4 linked regions of the Homo sapiens genome follow. The protein of the gene in region 4 interacts with the protein of the main gene of each other region in a biochemical or structural test. Each region holds a gene or a part of one and is shown on either strand. Other genes may lie near its edges.

The links. Proteins that work in one complex are often made in the same cells at the same time.
Region 1: the proteins of DLG1 (region 4) and CYSLTR2 interact in a test that uses a peptide from one of them, tested with the Homo sapiens proteins (2 studies listed by IntAct, with this or other methods).
Region 2: the proteins of DLG1 (region 4) and RAPGEF2 interact in a test that uses a peptide from one of them, tested with the Homo sapiens proteins (one large-scale study listed by IntAct).
Region 3: the proteins of DLG1 (region 4) and GUCY1A2 interact in a test that uses a peptide from one of them, tested with the Homo sapiens proteins (2 studies listed by IntAct, with this or other methods).

The regions. Positions count from the first base shown.
Region 1 is NC_000013.11:48,705,435-48,708,827, reverse strand, and holds part of CYSLTR2 (cysteinyl leukotriene receptor 2), read right to left. Parts: intron 2,012-3,393; 5' UTR 2,011-2,011; coding exon 970-2,010; 3' UTR 1-969. UniProt on the Homo sapiens protein: Receptor for cysteinyl leukotrienes. The response is mediated via a G-protein that activates a phosphatidylinositol-calcium second messenger system.
Region 2 is NC_000004.12:159,354,085-159,358,078, reverse strand, and holds part of RAPGEF2 (rap guanine nucleotide exchange factor 2), read right to left. Parts: intron 2,227-3,994; coding exon 1,921-2,226; intron 1-1,920. UniProt on the Homo sapiens protein: Functions as a guanine nucleotide exchange factor (GEF), which activates Rap and Ras family of small GTPases by exchanging bound GDP for free GTP in a cAMP-dependent manner.
Region 3 is NC_000011.10:106,941,977-106,945,970, forward strand, and holds part of GUCY1A2 (guanylate cyclase soluble subunit alpha-2), read right to left. Parts: intron 1-3,994. UniProt on the Homo sapiens protein: Has guanylyl cyclase on binding to the beta-1 subunit. Isoform 2 acts as a negative regulator of guanylyl cyclase activity as it forms non-functional heterodimers with the beta subunits.
Region 4 is NC_000003.12:197,063,625-197,068,112, forward strand, and holds part of DLG1 (disks large homolog 1), read right to left. Parts: intron 3,131-4,488; coding exon 3,080-3,130; intron 2,186-3,079; coding exon 2,084-2,185; intron 1,841-2,083; coding exon of another isoform or gene 1,827-1,840; exon of another isoform or gene 1,825-1,826; coding exon 1,652-1,824; intron 1-1,651. UniProt on the Homo sapiens protein: Essential multidomain scaffolding protein required for normal development. Recruits channels, receptors and signaling molecules to discrete plasma membrane domains in polarized cells.

The sequences.
Region 1 (3,393 bases), on a different chromosome or scaffold from region 4:
CTCCCTACTCATCTTCTGCGGAAATGTTAATAGAATTTCAGGAGTGCAACAACTTTTGCTATTTGCCCTCTACTCCATCTTTCCCTTGAGTGCTCAACCCTAATCCTCAGAGGCACCTCTTTTATTTTTGGCTTCCATCCCAATGAATTAATGGGAAGGAGAACTGCAGCAAGGTCAACTAACCTGCATCTCAAAGAAAATTTGAGATACATGTCCTTGATGATCCCCCTTCCATTCTATACACAATTCTTTCATTTCCTAGGGCAATGCCCCAGATCCTCCTCCTACTTTTCCTGTCCTTCCTAATACCCTGGCAAGAGAGAAACAGTAGAAATAGGGTTGCCTTCAGTGTGTTAGAACCTCTCTCCCAATGCAAAATGAAATTCTTCCTTCCCCTACTTATTGCCAGTTCTCTTTTGCTCCAATCCTTCTCCCCCTTTTCTCTCACTGTCCTTACTTGGGACTTGATGCTGCTTTGTTATAGGACAGCCTTCCTTTTCACAGTTAGTCTTTCCCTGAATCTTAGGATGTGCTTCTTTTCTGCTCTGGGGCTTCCAGTAGCGTCGTTAGTTGGCTATATCTCAAGGGATTGAAGAGGACAGGGGAGCTGGAGAAGCTGGGGAAGTTGTGGCTCTTTTGAAGAATTTAGAAAGCCTGATGGGCCAGAGATCTGGTTCAATATCTGAAGAAAAGTAGGATCCAATGTGCTTTGCATTTTTTCCCAGTCTGATATTTCAGCCCACAGGACTCTAGTAGGGATTTTTCCTCCTGTATCCCTCATTAAGACTCAACAACTGAAAATACACTGAATAAAATTTTTGAAGTAGGTCTTATTAACAAAAGTAATGGTCAACTAAATATTAAGAATCAACATTTGTTGGGAGTGATGTAAATACAAAGTCATTTGGAGACTATGAGTGAATGAAGATGGACACAAGGATACAAGAACAGGTCTCATCTAAGAGCTCCTTATACTCTTGTTTCCTTTCTCAACCACACACTAACAGGGAAAACACACTTTGTCTTTGCCTTCTGTGGATGGCCTTTTCTGAGTGCAGACTTTAGTCTGTCCTTAAAATTCTCCCCAGCAAAGTAATAGAGCAGAGGATTGAAGCAGGCATTGGCTGCTGCCAAGGCCAGTGTGATAACCAAAGCTTTATGCAGTCTGTCTTTGCATAAACCCACTTTCCATGTCGTCAAGTGGACGGTCCTCAGTGTGTGATAGGGCAGGAAACACAAGAAGAAGATGATCAAGGTGATGATGATGGTGGTCAGTGCCTTCCTGTGAGAAACCCGCAGCCCCGATTCTGGGACCTCCACTTTTAACAGAACCCGAATGATCAGCAGATAACAGATGCTGAGTGTGAAAAATGGCAGCAGGCAGCCCACCACCAAGGCAATATAGTTCATGGTCTGCAGCTTAGCAATTTTATAGAGATTCAGCTCTAAGCATGATGTGACACTGCCGTTCTGCTCAGAGCCACTGTCCAGGAGCATTATTGAGGAAGCCATGATAAGGATCCATATGATCCCACAGAGGATCCAGGCACTCCTGATGCTGGTGACATGCAGAAGCCGAAAGGGGTGAACCATTGCCAGGAAACGCACAACACTCAGCACGGTCAGGAAATAAATACTGCTGTACATGTTGACATACAAGGAATAAGACATAATCCTGCAGGCCAGGTCTCCAAATATCCAATTGGAGCCTCTAAGATAATAGTCAGCCCTGAAGGGAAGCGTGCTTATGAACAGGAGATCTGAAATGGCCAGATTTAGCATGAAAACGTTCACAGATGTGGACTTCTTATAAGGCTGCAGGAAAACATATATGGACAACCCATTTCCCAAGACTCCCCAGAAAAATATTATCAGATATACAATTGGGAAAAATTCTCTCTTGAAGTTTTCAATTGTGCAGTTCCTGCTGTTGTTATTGCTGAAGGTGCCATTTGGTTCCATTTCTGATACGGAGATGGATGGTTGCAAGGACATAAATTTTCTCTCCATGCTGGGTTAAAAAGAAACAGACACAAAAAGTTACTTTGTGAATTTCCCTTTTTCCTTCTTGCTTACTGATTACATCTCTCTAGGTTTTAATGAAACAGGGAGCAATACTATCTTTTCTTTGAAAGTTGAGTTTTAAAACACTGGTTAAGTCTTTACTACATGCTGCATTACATTTCATAATAAATTTAAATTTCCTGATTTTTGAATGTAGAATAGCCATTAATTTGTTTGGTTGAAGCTGACGCTTCAAACTTAGAGAACTTGTGACCTACTGACCCTGTTGACATGAATACCTTACTATGATATTGCAGCCTAAAACTACTGAATAGCAGATTTCTCATCAGAAACTATGGAGGACAGAAAGAAATGGCACATTTCTCAAATGCTGAAAGAAAAGACCTGCCAAACTAGTATTCTATGTCCAGCAAAAATATCCTTCAAGTACAAAGAGAAAAATCAAGACTTTTTCAGACGGAAAACTAAGACTTTGCTGCCAGCAGACCTATCTTAAAAGAATGACTAGGCTGGGTTTGGTGGCTCACGCCCGTAATCCCAGCAGTTTGGGAAGCTGAGGCTGGCAGATCACCTGAGGTCAGGAGTTCAAGACCAGTCTGGCCAACATGGTGAAACTCCGTCTCTACTAAAAATACAAAAATTAGCGGGCCCAGTGGCAGGCACCTGTCACCTCTGCTACCCGGGAGGCTGAGGCAGGAGAATTGCCTGAACCTGGGAGGCAGAAGTTGCAATGAGCCGAGATCATGCCATTGCACTCCAGCTGGGGCAACAAGAGCGAAACTCCATCTCAAAAAAAAAAAAAACAACAACAAAACAAAACAAAAAACAAACAAACAAAGAATGACTAAAGGAAGTTCTCTAAACAGAAAGGAATTTATAAAAGAAGGAAACTTAGAATATTAGAAAATAAGAAAGAACATGGTAAGCCAAAATATGTGTAAATACAATAGGCTGTCCTTCCCTTTTAGAGTCTAAGTTACATTTAATGTTTTGAAACAAAAACATTAATGCTGCCTGATGTGGTTTTAAATGGATGTAGAGGAATTATTGAGATAGTTATATTATAAATGAGGGAAGGCAAAGAGACATAAGAGGAAATAAGAAGTTTTCTATACTTCACTTGAACTGGTAGAATGATGATGCTAATAGACTATCATAAGATATATATATATGTATATCTTTATATACATATATATTATATATATAGAGAGAAATACCTAGAGCTTCCACTAAAATGATATACAAAGGGATACACTCAAAAACATTACAGATAAATAAAAATGGAATTCTAAAAAGTGTTCAGATAACCAACAACAAGGCAGGAAAAAGAAAACAGATAATAAAAACAGAAAAAAAATAAAATGGCAG
Region 2 (3,994 bases), on a different chromosome or scaffold from region 4:
AGCAAGCAAGTAATTTCTTGTGCTATAGAGAATATATTCACTGATGTGCTAAATAAAACTATCATAGTTATTCTTTTTAGTATAGCTCACTTAGAATCCTTGTCTTTTTTTCCTAAACAATGACGAACAACAAAAAGGTTAAAATGTATGCAATACATATCTTTACATATATACACACAATATTAAAAAGATATGCATTATATATTTTTGTTCAGAAAGTTGTTAAATTCATTTTAAAAAGTTGTAAAATAGCATGTGCCATTTAAAAAAAATATACGATCAGATACACATAAAAAGTCTAGAATATATAACAACATTTTAATAGTGGCTATCTGCAAGTGACAGGATTTTAAGTAATTTTCATTTGTAATGTTTTTCTATTTATTTAATTTAATTTAACTTTTTTGAGACAGGGTGTGGGTTTGCCATCCACAGTGCAGTGTTCTCGGCTCACTGCAACCTCCGCCTCCCGGGCTCAAGCGATTCTCCTGCCTCGGCCTCCCAATCTCCCAGTCACGTGTTGCTTTTTTCTATGATTGTGTAATCAAACATGTTAAACTGAAAACTTTAAAGAAGATGGGAGGCCATGTTCTCCTTCCTCATTCTCAATTCAGCATGGTCAGATAGATTTGTAGAAAGAACGCACAAAGAGTTATAAAGAATGTGGGTTCCTTCCTTCCTTCCCTTTCTCCCTCCCCTTCTCTCTCTCTTTCTTTTAGAGACCGGGTCTTGCTCTGCTACCTAGGCTACGGTGCAGTGGCACAATCATGGGTCACCACAGCCCTGAACTCCTGGGCTCAAGTGATCCTTCCACTTCAGCCTCCATAGTAGCTAGGACTATTGGCACACGCCACCACGCCTGGGTCATTTGAAAAATATTTTTATGGAGACAGGTCTCACTATGTTGCCCAGGCTTGTCTCGAACTCCTGGCCTCAAGCAATCCTCCCACCTCAGCCTCCCAAAGTGCTGGGATTACAGGCATGAGCCATCAGGCTGGCTGATAATGTATCTTTCTTTATCAGACTTTCATTTCCAAATGAGTCCCAATTCATTAAAAGCGCAAATATAATGTTTCCACAGAAAACTTTAACCATCCACCTTTGAGAATCCTACATGCTTCTAAAATTCTTGACAACAGCACAAACTTGTGAAATTTTCATTTTCTTTTCCTTTTTTTGAGACAGAGTCTCACTCTGTCACCCAGGCTGGAGTGCAGTGACATGTTGTTGGCTCACTGCAACCTCTGCCTTCCGGGCTCAAGTGGTTCTCCTGCCTCAGCCTCCCGAGCAGCTGGGATTACAGGTGCCTGCCACCATACCCGGCTAATTTTTGTATTTTTAGTAGAGACAGGGTTTCACTACTTTGGCCAGGCTGGTCTCAAACTCCTGAGCTCAAGTAATCTGCCCTCCTCAGCCTCCCAAAGTGCTGGGATTACAGGTGTAAGCCATCGCACCTGGCCTATTCTTTTTCTTAAAATAGGGTCACAGAAGTACTTCAATTTTAACGAGAATTAGAAAAGAAATCAAGTCATATAAACACTGTATTTTAAGTGACTCCCTCCATAATCTTTGGGATTTTTTAAGCCATTTAGGGAAACACACATACACAGACACACAGAAAGCAATCAAATTTTAGTGAGAATTGGAGAAGAAAACCAGTTATATACACACTGTATTTTAAGTGACTCCCTCCATAATCTTTGGCATTTTTAAAGCCATTTAAGGAAACACACACACACACACAAAAGAAAGCAGTCAACAGCTGTAACCCTAAATTTGGAACTCTGAATGTAGTGTACTTTGTGTAGTATATGGTTAGACATAGCTGACTGCAGTGTTAAGAGAACAGAAATGCCTTGGGAAGCAGCACAAGTGAACACATCTAACTTGGAGGTTTTAGGAATATTTATGTGCATATACCATCCTCCTCGGTGGAAAACCCTTGGGACTGATAGGGGGCGAGGCGCGGGTCAGACTCGTTCGGTTTATGCCACTGAGGTTTGTTCACAGGCCTGCTGCTGGTGGGATGCCCATGTGGCTGCTGTACGGATGAAGGCCCAGCTGTGTCGGAGGATCGTGCGACCATCCGCGATCTCTGAAGGGCCACGTTGTAGTCCGGCGGTTTCCTGGCTGGATGGGAGTGCCCTTCTGGAAAGTCAGTAATGGGAATTCCAATGTAGCCGGGAGGGGTGGGCGGGGGCTCTCGATACCTGCCCTCCTTTCGTGCTAGAGTAGAAACAATGCACCAGCATTAAAAACTAGTTCATGCCACAAAAGTTTATTAAAAATATAAAAATAATTACTAAAACAGCATCCACAGTGTAGCAGCAGATGTGCATTTGCATGGTATCGGTTAGAGGTGCGGTGTGAGGCAGGCCAGGGAATGCATGTTAACTAAACCAAATTTCACAATGATGTTATCTTTGTGTGGTGAAATAATTGGTGAGAGAAGCTGCTAGTCCATCTAAGTACTTTTATCTTTAAATGGGCTGCTTGTCCATTTAAAATGGTCTGTAACTATAAAATAGTAAGATTAAAACCTAACCCCTGGATTTATTGGAAAGACTGAAGCACAGGAAGAACCTAAGTACACAGCACTATGCCTAGAACCTGTTTGTGCTTGGTACAAGTTCCCTTTTTCCTCTCTGCCTGCCGGATCTGCCCTCTTTCTGGGCATTTATCTTTACCAGGCAGAGAAGCAATTCTACATCACTCTCGGGTCTCAAGACTTCACTTACAGAAACAGTGAATTAAAATAAATTTGGAAAAGTCGCACAAAGGATACCAATTTAAAAATTCTAAAACTATTACTATAAGGTGTCTATTTTTCTTAAAATCCCTTTATTGATGCTCATGACCTAGAATATGAAACCTGTATAGGCCAGTAAAACTAAAGTTTCATTTTCTTGAACTTTTAAAACTCAATTGTTAGGAACTAAAAATCATTCTTCCTTCCTTTGCAATAAAAATTCTGAGTATTAGTTGTAAGCACTTGAAAAAGTCCAACCTAAGAATATTTATTAACTGTTTTCTCCTTATTCATTGTAAAAGGATATTAAACTTGAAATCTACCCATGACTATTTACATGGCTAAATAACTACAATTTTCCTACTAATAAAAGTAATGTCCGTAATGATTATACTCCAGAATTTCTCACTCTACAACCTATCATCTGTTCCTACACTTCGTCTATATAGATGTTAATTGTGCCATAGAAAACACATCTCAACAGGACTGAGGGCGCATGAGAGCCTCTTCTAACAGGAACAGCAGCAGCAATAGCTTTCATGTACTTAGTGAATCTACTATCTGGGCACTGTTCTAAATACTTTGCATAAATTTCCTTGAATCCTCACACTAACTCCATTAAGTAGAAATTATGAAGCTCATTTTACAGATGAGGAAACAGGCACTGTTTTGTATTTTACCCAATGTCACAAAACTAATAAAGTGGCAAAACAGGGATTCAATCCCCAGTCCGCCTGACTCCTAAACCCGTGCTCTTAGTCATTACACTATTAGCACCTCTCCCTCCTTCTACAGCGTGCACAAAGAATTGCTTATCAACAATGTGCGTGCAGAATAAAAATCAATGGAAGACTTTTAAGTATACAAAGCGTATAGTTCTAAATACAATCAAGAGAACAAAATAGAAGAATCAAAGATATAAAAGAGTTTCAATTAAAGAAAAATTTCTCCTCTATGAATAATAGGAATCCATCCTGATTTTCAGGTTAAGAGAAAAAAATTAGACTAGATAATATTCACAATGACAATCTACTCATCCTGATAGCTAAGATTTATTGAATGTTTTGTTATATAGGAACAGATCTGTAGGTACCTGACCACAAAACCTGGGCTCTTAACCACTATTGATTTCAAAGACCTTAACACACCACTAATTTGGAAGTCCTACATAGCAATGGAGAAAATGAGGAAAAGAACCAACAAACACATAATTTTACTATTGTAATAAGTTACATTAAAGACATG
Region 3 (3,994 bases), on a different chromosome or scaffold from region 4:
AGGTTACAAGACTGCTCTTCAACATGTGTTGCATTCACTAACAATAATGTCAGCCAGAATAGACAATAATAGTACTTATCTGTCCAGTTCTCTAGTGTAGAAGAGAAAACAAAGACAGACAATATTCACTGCCATTAGTCTCCTGTTCCAACTGCTCTGTTGAAACTGCTTTCATAAATACTTAAATCAATACATACTGTTTTGTCCTTATCTTACTTAACCTTGTTTGCTGTTTTTCCTTTAATTTGACACTATTAATCATCCCTTCCTCCTAAAACTCTCATCTCTTTTGGCTTATCAAACCATACTCTCCTGGTTTGATTACTCTGCATGAACATTAATTCTCACTTCCTTCACTAAAACTTCTTTCTATGCCAAATCCTTACATCACCATCACTATGTTATAACTAGAAAACTCTAAGATACAAGTTAAATTTATATACACATTCAATGACAGTCCTTTGTTGCTATGAAATCTTCCAGTTATGAAATTCTTATTAAAAACTAAATACAGAATAAATAAAAATTCCTATAAACTGACCATATATGCTGAACTACAATATTCCGTGTGTCACTGAAAATATTCCATGGATTGCTTCTAAACTTTGAAGAACTGTATTTTCAAAAGACTTCAGGTCCATGTGCATTGAAGAGAAAAAGAGAAGTTCTTCTAACTTGCATTTTTCATAACATTGAAAAGGTCCTCACAGTTATGGTGCACACAAATGTAAAGACAATACAGTGTAAGCTTATGTTCTGTGCCTAATGCCAGGATCCCAAAGAATCATCCAGAAAATAAGAAGTTCACCATAGGCAACAAACTAAAAACTACTCTATGCGCAGCAATCTATCAACTAGAAAGCCTGCTGCTTTATAAAGGACCTCTGTACTTTAAGGTACAATATTGTTAATTTTCAAATGATGATGCTAAGGAATACCAGATGCTAAAGTGACGGTTGTATTACTAAAAAAAAATGAATTTTTTTGAATATTACATTAAAATATTATGAATGGCAATTCTATATAAACCCATAATATTCAATTAACTAATAAAGATTTTTATTCCCAGAACTGTTAAACTGCACAAGATCAGAAAAGAAAAAAGTTATTAGATTTGAAAATATTAAAACTAAGAAAAGATTACTTCAACTTTTACAAATATACAAGTCAATAGCCAAGACTTTGATTTTAAACTTTAATCTCAAAATTCAGAAAGCACAGACAAAGTAATTCAATTCAGACAACTGATGCAATTCTGACTCCCAAAGTTCCGCCTACGATTGACGCAAACCCCCTACTTACAGTAAATCATTTGAAACATATAGACAATGCTAATCTCCTCACATCACAAGATTCTATGACAGCTTGACATCTGGGTCTATAAGAATACATTTCCTCAAGTGGCAAAATTTATAACAAAGCTGCTCTTATTAATGGGTAAGTTAAGTTAGAATTTTTAACTACTGTTAATTCACCTCTTTAAAAAGGTGAATAGCATAAATGCTGGCATCCTTTAGCTGTAAATGAAATACGATCTGTTCCTTCATGATCTGGCCCTGTTGTCTCTCATCTGCTATCCCACCCCACCTCAGATGGCATTTCTTGAGGACAAGGACCTTGCCCTATTTATGTCTGCGTATCTATCACTGGCATAATGCCTGACACCTGGAGAATAAGCATTGTTTCATAGAAATTAAGCATTCATCTAAGTATTTGTTTGGTGAATATTACTAACCTTTTAAGGTTGCACTTGTGCCACATCTAAGGATATGAAAACAAAAAGACACATGACTTTCTCTCATGGGCCCCTACAAAACAGTAAATTACATTATGGTTGGGCTACAACAGGGGTACACAGGAGTACCCACGGAAGTAGAAGAAAAACAGTATCTGCCTCTCCTCAGAGAGACAATGTTTGAAGGGAGACTTAAATAAAAAAACAGGTTAGGCTGGGCACAGTGGGTCATGCCTGTAAACCTAGCACTTTGGGAGGCCAAAGCAGGCTGATTGCTTGAGTCCAGAAGTTCAAGACCCAGCCTGCCCAACATGGTGAAACCCCATATCTAGAAAAAAGTACAAAAATTAGCAGGGCATGGTGGTACATGCCTGTAGTCCGTAGTCCCAGCTACTCGGGAGGCTGAGGTGGGAGAATCACTGGAGCCCAGGATGTTGAGGTAGCAGTGACCCGTGATCATACCACTGCACTCCAGCCTGGGCAACAGAGTGAGACCCTGTCTCCAAAAAAAAAAAAAAAAAAAAAGCAGGTGGTCCCAGCCTGGGCAACATGCCTAAACCCTGTCTTTACTAAAAATACAAAAAAAGAGCCAGGCATAGTGGTGCAGGCCCGCAGTCCCAGCTACTCTGGAGGCTGAGGTGGGAGAATCACCTGAGCCCAAGCAAGTCTAGGCTGCAGTGAGCTGTGACTGCACCACTGTACTCCAGCCTGAGTGACAGAGTGAGACCTTGTACTGAAAATTACTGTAGAAGAGTGTAAATGTCAGGAAGCATTCACTGGGGAGCCATCTTTGGGAGGAGAAAGAAGATCACAAAAAATAACTGAACGGTACCAGGTTTAATATCTGAGTGGCGAAATAATCTGAACACCAAACCCCCATGACACAAGGTTACCTATATAACAAACCTGCACATGTACCCCTGAATTTAAAATAAAATTTTTTAATCTGTGAATTTATGTTTTAAAACATACATCAGAAATAAATTTTAACAATGAGAAATGTGGTATAATGAAGATGAAGCCAACCCCCATGTGAGTACTCTGAAACGAATTTTTTCACCTAGTAACCACATCTAACAAGTGCAGTATCATAAACATACACTACAAAACTATCAGTGTTACTCCTTCCTTTCAAATCACAAAGCACATGTCCGTGTCTTTCTTATAAAATAGCAGATAGTCCCTTGTAGTATTTTTTCTGTGATCCTTCTATTTTCCATAAACATATTTAGAGGAACAACCTCTAAAAACACTATAATGTAGAATGAGAAAAAAGAAACCAATGGAAGAAGGACTATAACTAAATGAATTACAGAGAGAATTTCCCCTGAACCATGGAAAATCCTACATCTACAGATGGAAAAAGCATAAATTGCAACCAGGAATGATAAGAAACACAGACACACACACACACCCCTAAGAATATCTGGTTGGATTCCTGAAAAAAAAAAAAGAGAGAGAGAGATAAAGAAGATCTTTTAAGTTGCAAGAGAAAACAGGTAATTAAAAAAAATTTACTTTTCATCTGCAACAATGAAAGCTAGATGATGAGAGAAAAATACAGGTGAGATACTGAGAGAACTGAAACCTAAAAGTTTATCACCCAGAAGAGTATCTGGCAAAGATTCAGAGATTCCATCACTCAGTGAAACACCTTAGAAAATGAAAAAAAACAAAAACAAAAAAAACAAAACAAAAAAACACATTAATCGATCAAGAAATCACTCAGAATGAAGAAGTAGAGGAGTCTGGTTAAGAGAAGAAGGAAAAGTAGACACATTAGTGAGCAATGAACCCTACAACACACACATAGACACATGCTTTCTGATGTATGTGTACATATACATCATATACAAATGTGTACATACATACAAATGTCCACACATTTATACATATTAGACATGTATTATGGATAATGACCTATTACCTGGACAGTTGTAGTATGAACATTAATTTTAAATTACTGATACAGGCCGGGTGCGGTGGCTTACGCCTGTAATCCCAGCACTTTGGGAGGCCGAGGCGGGCAGATCACCTGAGGTCAGGAGTTCGAGACCAGCCTGACCAACATGGAGAAACCCTGTCTCTACTAAAAATACAAAATTATCTGGGCATGGTGGCGCATGCCTATAATCCCAGCTACTTGGGAAAGCTGAGGCAGGAGAATCGCTTGAACCTGGGAGGCGGAGGTTGCAGTGAGCTGAGATCACACCACTGCACTCCAGCCTGGGCAACAAGAGCGAAACCCATCTCAAAAAA
Region 4 (4,488 bases):
GCATTTAGATGATTTTCAGTATTTCACAATTATAAACAATGCTACAATGAATAAATACCCTTTTGCCCATGTATTTTCATACTGTTGGGGTATATCTTTGGAATAAATTCCTAGAAGTGGGATGCTGGGTTGAAGGAAAGCTGCTAGATATTGCCAAATACCCTTCCAAAAGGCAGTACCAGTTTGCATTTCCACCAGCAATGCACAACTGTTTTCTCTCAGTCTCACCAAGAAAATGTCTTCATATTTCTCCCTGAATCTGATAGGGGAGAAATTGAATTTAGAGTAGTCTTCTTAATTTACATTTTTTTTTTTTTTTTTTGAGATGGAGTCTTGCTCTGTTGCTCAGGCTGGAGTGCAGTGGCATGGTTTTGGCTCACTGCAATCTCCTGGGTTCAAGCGATTCTCCTGCCTCAGCCTCCTTAGCCAGGATTACAGGCATGCACCACCACGCCAAGTTAATTTTTGTATTTTTGGTAGAGATGGGGTTTTGCCATGTTGGCCAGGCTGGTCTTGAACTCCTGACCTCAGGTGATCTACCCACCTCAGCCTTCCACTGTGCCTGGCCTTATTTTTTTTTTTTTTTGAGGCAGAGTTTCACTCTTGTCACCCAGGTTGGAGTGCAACGGCACGACCTCGGCTCACTGCAACCTCCACCTCCCAGGTACAAGCAATTCTCCTGCCTCAGCCTCCTGAGAAGCTGGGATTAAGGCATGCACTGCCAAGCCTGGCTAATTTTTGTATGTTTAGTAGAGACGGGGTTTCACCATGTTGGCCAGGCTGGTCTTGAACTCCTAACCTCAGGTGATCCGCCTGCCTTGGCCTCCCAAAGCGCTGGGATTACAGGCGTGAGCCACCGCACCCGGCCTTTACATTTCTTTAATAATGACTACAGTTGAACGTCATTTCCTATGTACAAAGGCCATTTTATATCTTATTTTTGTGTGAACTATATATTCTGATCTTTTGTCCACTGTTTTTTTCTATTGGGTTTCTGGTCTCTGTTCCCTGTTTTTATGAGTTCTTTATATATTGGGAATATTAGCCCTTTTCTTGCAAATTTTTTCTGTCAGTTGTCTTTTGACATTGTTAATGGTGTTTTCCAATAGTTTTTGGAAAAAGTCTTTGGCCATAAAAAAAGTTTTTTAAAAATTTTAAGTGGTTAGATTTATTGATCTTTCTTTTTTTTTCTTTTTTTAAGAGCCAGGGTCTTGTTCTGTTGCCCAGGCTGGAGTTCAGTGGCATGCTCATAGCTCACTGCAGCCTCAAACTCCCAGGCTTCAGTGATTCTCTCAACTCAGCCTTCTCAGTAGCTAGGACTGTAAGGGTGCACTGCCACACCCGGCCCTTATCTCCTTTTAATATATGCTGGAGAGCTAGGCCTAAACAAAAGGTCTATCTCTAGCAAATGACCTGAAAATAACTTCTCTTACATTCATGTTATCATTTCTATTTTCACTTTCTTTGTTTACCTTATTTACCTGTTTTATCTTGTATGCACTTTCCTAAGCCATGGAAAATTAATTATTTAGGTAAGCAAATTCATCACATTAACAAAACTAATTAGTGCTGTATCTATCCTACCAGTCTTGCATACTGTCAAAGGCATATCTGATTAGAAGCTATATTCTGGGATTAGTCTGATGCTTACCTTTTCTGCTACTTCTCGTACAGACTGAACACTTGTTCCATATAGATGATTGTTATACTGGCCAGCTTCAATGAATTTATGTTCCTGGATATCTTTTTCCATCTGCTCTCTTGAAGTCACAAAATGATAATCTCTTCCATCTACCTCATAATCTCGTTTTGGTCTAGTTGTATCTTTAACAGAAAAAAACTTGGGAAAGTGTTTAATATTAAAAAAAAAACCACAATAAATCCATTTTCTACTTACATCGTTTTGTAAAGTTCAACAGAACAGATTAATTTAAATCTGAGAAAGGACAATAATATGGAGGATGGAAGAGTAACTGATAAAATAAGTACAAACCATTAAAAAATGGTTATATCTATTTTTCCCACACACAGTGACAGGAAATGTTAAGAGTAACAATTAAATGTTTTTGTTTGGTTTACTTACGAGGAACACAGGATCCAAATTTGTCAGGAAATTCTGAGATCAAGTCATCATTTATCCTGTCTTTCATAGGTCCCAATATGATCACTGGTCGAGTATAATTAACTATAAAGATAAACTGCATGTTAAAAGGAATAAACATTCAACAAATATCAATGTATTTTATTTCACCAGCGAACAAAAATATCCTTAACTGTTATGACTAATTTTTTTCTTCCCTCTCCATCTCACTCTACCATCAACCAAAGATGCGTAACTTGCTCTTTTATAATCTTGACTCAGATCTTAAACTTTACTTAGTCTTCTGCTAGAAGTCATATTGATAATTCAATCAAGTTAAATTTGGTGTTTTCGCAGATAATGTTTCTTTACATTGCAAATGACAGAATAAAGTCTAGTGTTTTACAGATGGCTTTGAAGTAGAAATTGTAAGGAAGCAGAGCAAAGAAGGGCAGAACAGAAACTGGATGTAGGAAGTGATATAATCCCAGTAGTAGCATTCTAGAAAGATGATCTAACAGAAGTGTAAACTCTGGGTGGTCTGGGATCATGCTGGAATAATGGAGATTGGTAGTGAGACTGAGAACTAACATTGTGATAGAAGGGATGAAAAGAAGGTCATAAATAAGAAAGAAGTGGGATAAACAGTGCCTGGAACCTAACTGGATGAGGAGGAGGAGGAGGAACAGAGAAGGCTCAAAGATACTTCCAAGATTTTCAAAAAAGGGTTATTTGGAAGATAGTGATGCTAACAAGAACACTGGAACAAAGTTGCTTGGGAAATAAAACACAAATATAAAAGTCAGTATGAAATGACTAGATTCTAATATTCTGTGGAGTAAACTATGTTTCATAAAACACATGTAGTAAATTTCTACATGTATATGTAGTAAAAAAAAATTTTAATACAACATTTTTTGGGGTATGAGAATTTTTTTCCCCCAAATTAAAAAGTATATTCTTCTAGAAGGTTATAAAACATCAATAGGCTTCACAAACCTTCTTGTTGATTCACTGGTTCATAAGATAAGACGTATTCTTCTTGACCACCTATTAGAAAGTGAAGGCACAGATGAAAAATGTGTAAAGATAATTGATGCTAATCTAATTCTTCATAAACAACATATACATTACTAGAACTTTCCTGAGAAAATGGCAAAGATATGGAAAGAGGTACTTTATGGCAAGATTTAGTTAAAAAAAAGTGTCAAATTATAAAGTCTTAAAAGTGAGTTTGCTAAATGTAAAACAAAATACAAATGGGCTATATAATCAATATTATATTTTATAGATAATCAAATCTAAAAATCTTCATTTGTGATGCTATGTGCTACTCCTTTATTTAGAATCTAAGAATTATTAAATCTGTTAAAGATTAATGCTTTAATGAGCAGATCTGTCTATCATCTATCTACGTATTAGGTAATTTGTTACTATTAAAAACATGCTACTTTTTTTGTTCCACCAACTACAATACTGAATACAGTATATTTTATTTTTAAAATAATTACATCTTAAAATTAAAAATTATAAATGCAAAGGTAAAACTACTGTTACTATTTCACTGATGAAAAATTCACTAACTCAACTTTGTAAAAAAATAATAAATTTAATGTGAGTCAAAAAGAGCTTTAGATAAAACTAAATCCTTCCAAGAAAATAAACAACAGTGATAGTAAAGGAGATAAATATATTTGCTTTGACCTTAAAAACACAAGAAGTTAAAGCTTCTAAAGGTTAAATTAAAGGTTCGGAGCTTAGGAAATACTCTAAATAAAAGAGTCTACAAATTATATCTGAATATCTGAATCCAGTGAAAAGAAATAAATAGTTAAAAACTCTGAGAGTTTTTTTTTTTTTTTTTTTTTTTGAGACGGAGTTTCGCTCTTGTTGCCTAGTCTGGAGTGCAATGGCATGATCTCAGCTCACTGCAGCCTCCAACTCCCGGGTTCAAGCGGTTCTCCTGCCTCAGCCTCCCAAGTAGCTGGGATTACAGGCATGTGCCATCATGCCCAGCTAATTTTGTATTTTTAGTAAAGATAGGGTTTCTCCACGTTGGTCAGGCTGGTCTCGAACTCCTGACCTCAGGTGATCTGCCCGCCTCGGCCTCCCAAAGTGCTGGGATTACAGGCGTGAGCCGCCGCGCCCGGCCAAAAACTCTAGGAGTTTTAAACTAACACACACACATCCCCCCTCACCCCCACGCCTAAAATTAGAAAAGACTGTGTTAACCCAAGTGGTTCAATGAAAGCAATCAATATTGGATAATGTATTTGAAGACTTTCTCTTTAATTATCAAGATCCTATAACAATTTTACCATGAATTTTGCAATTGGTTTATATTATATGTATGTAGCTGTAGGTCTTTTAAATCCATACATTGGCATAAACATTCTTTTCTGTTTTAG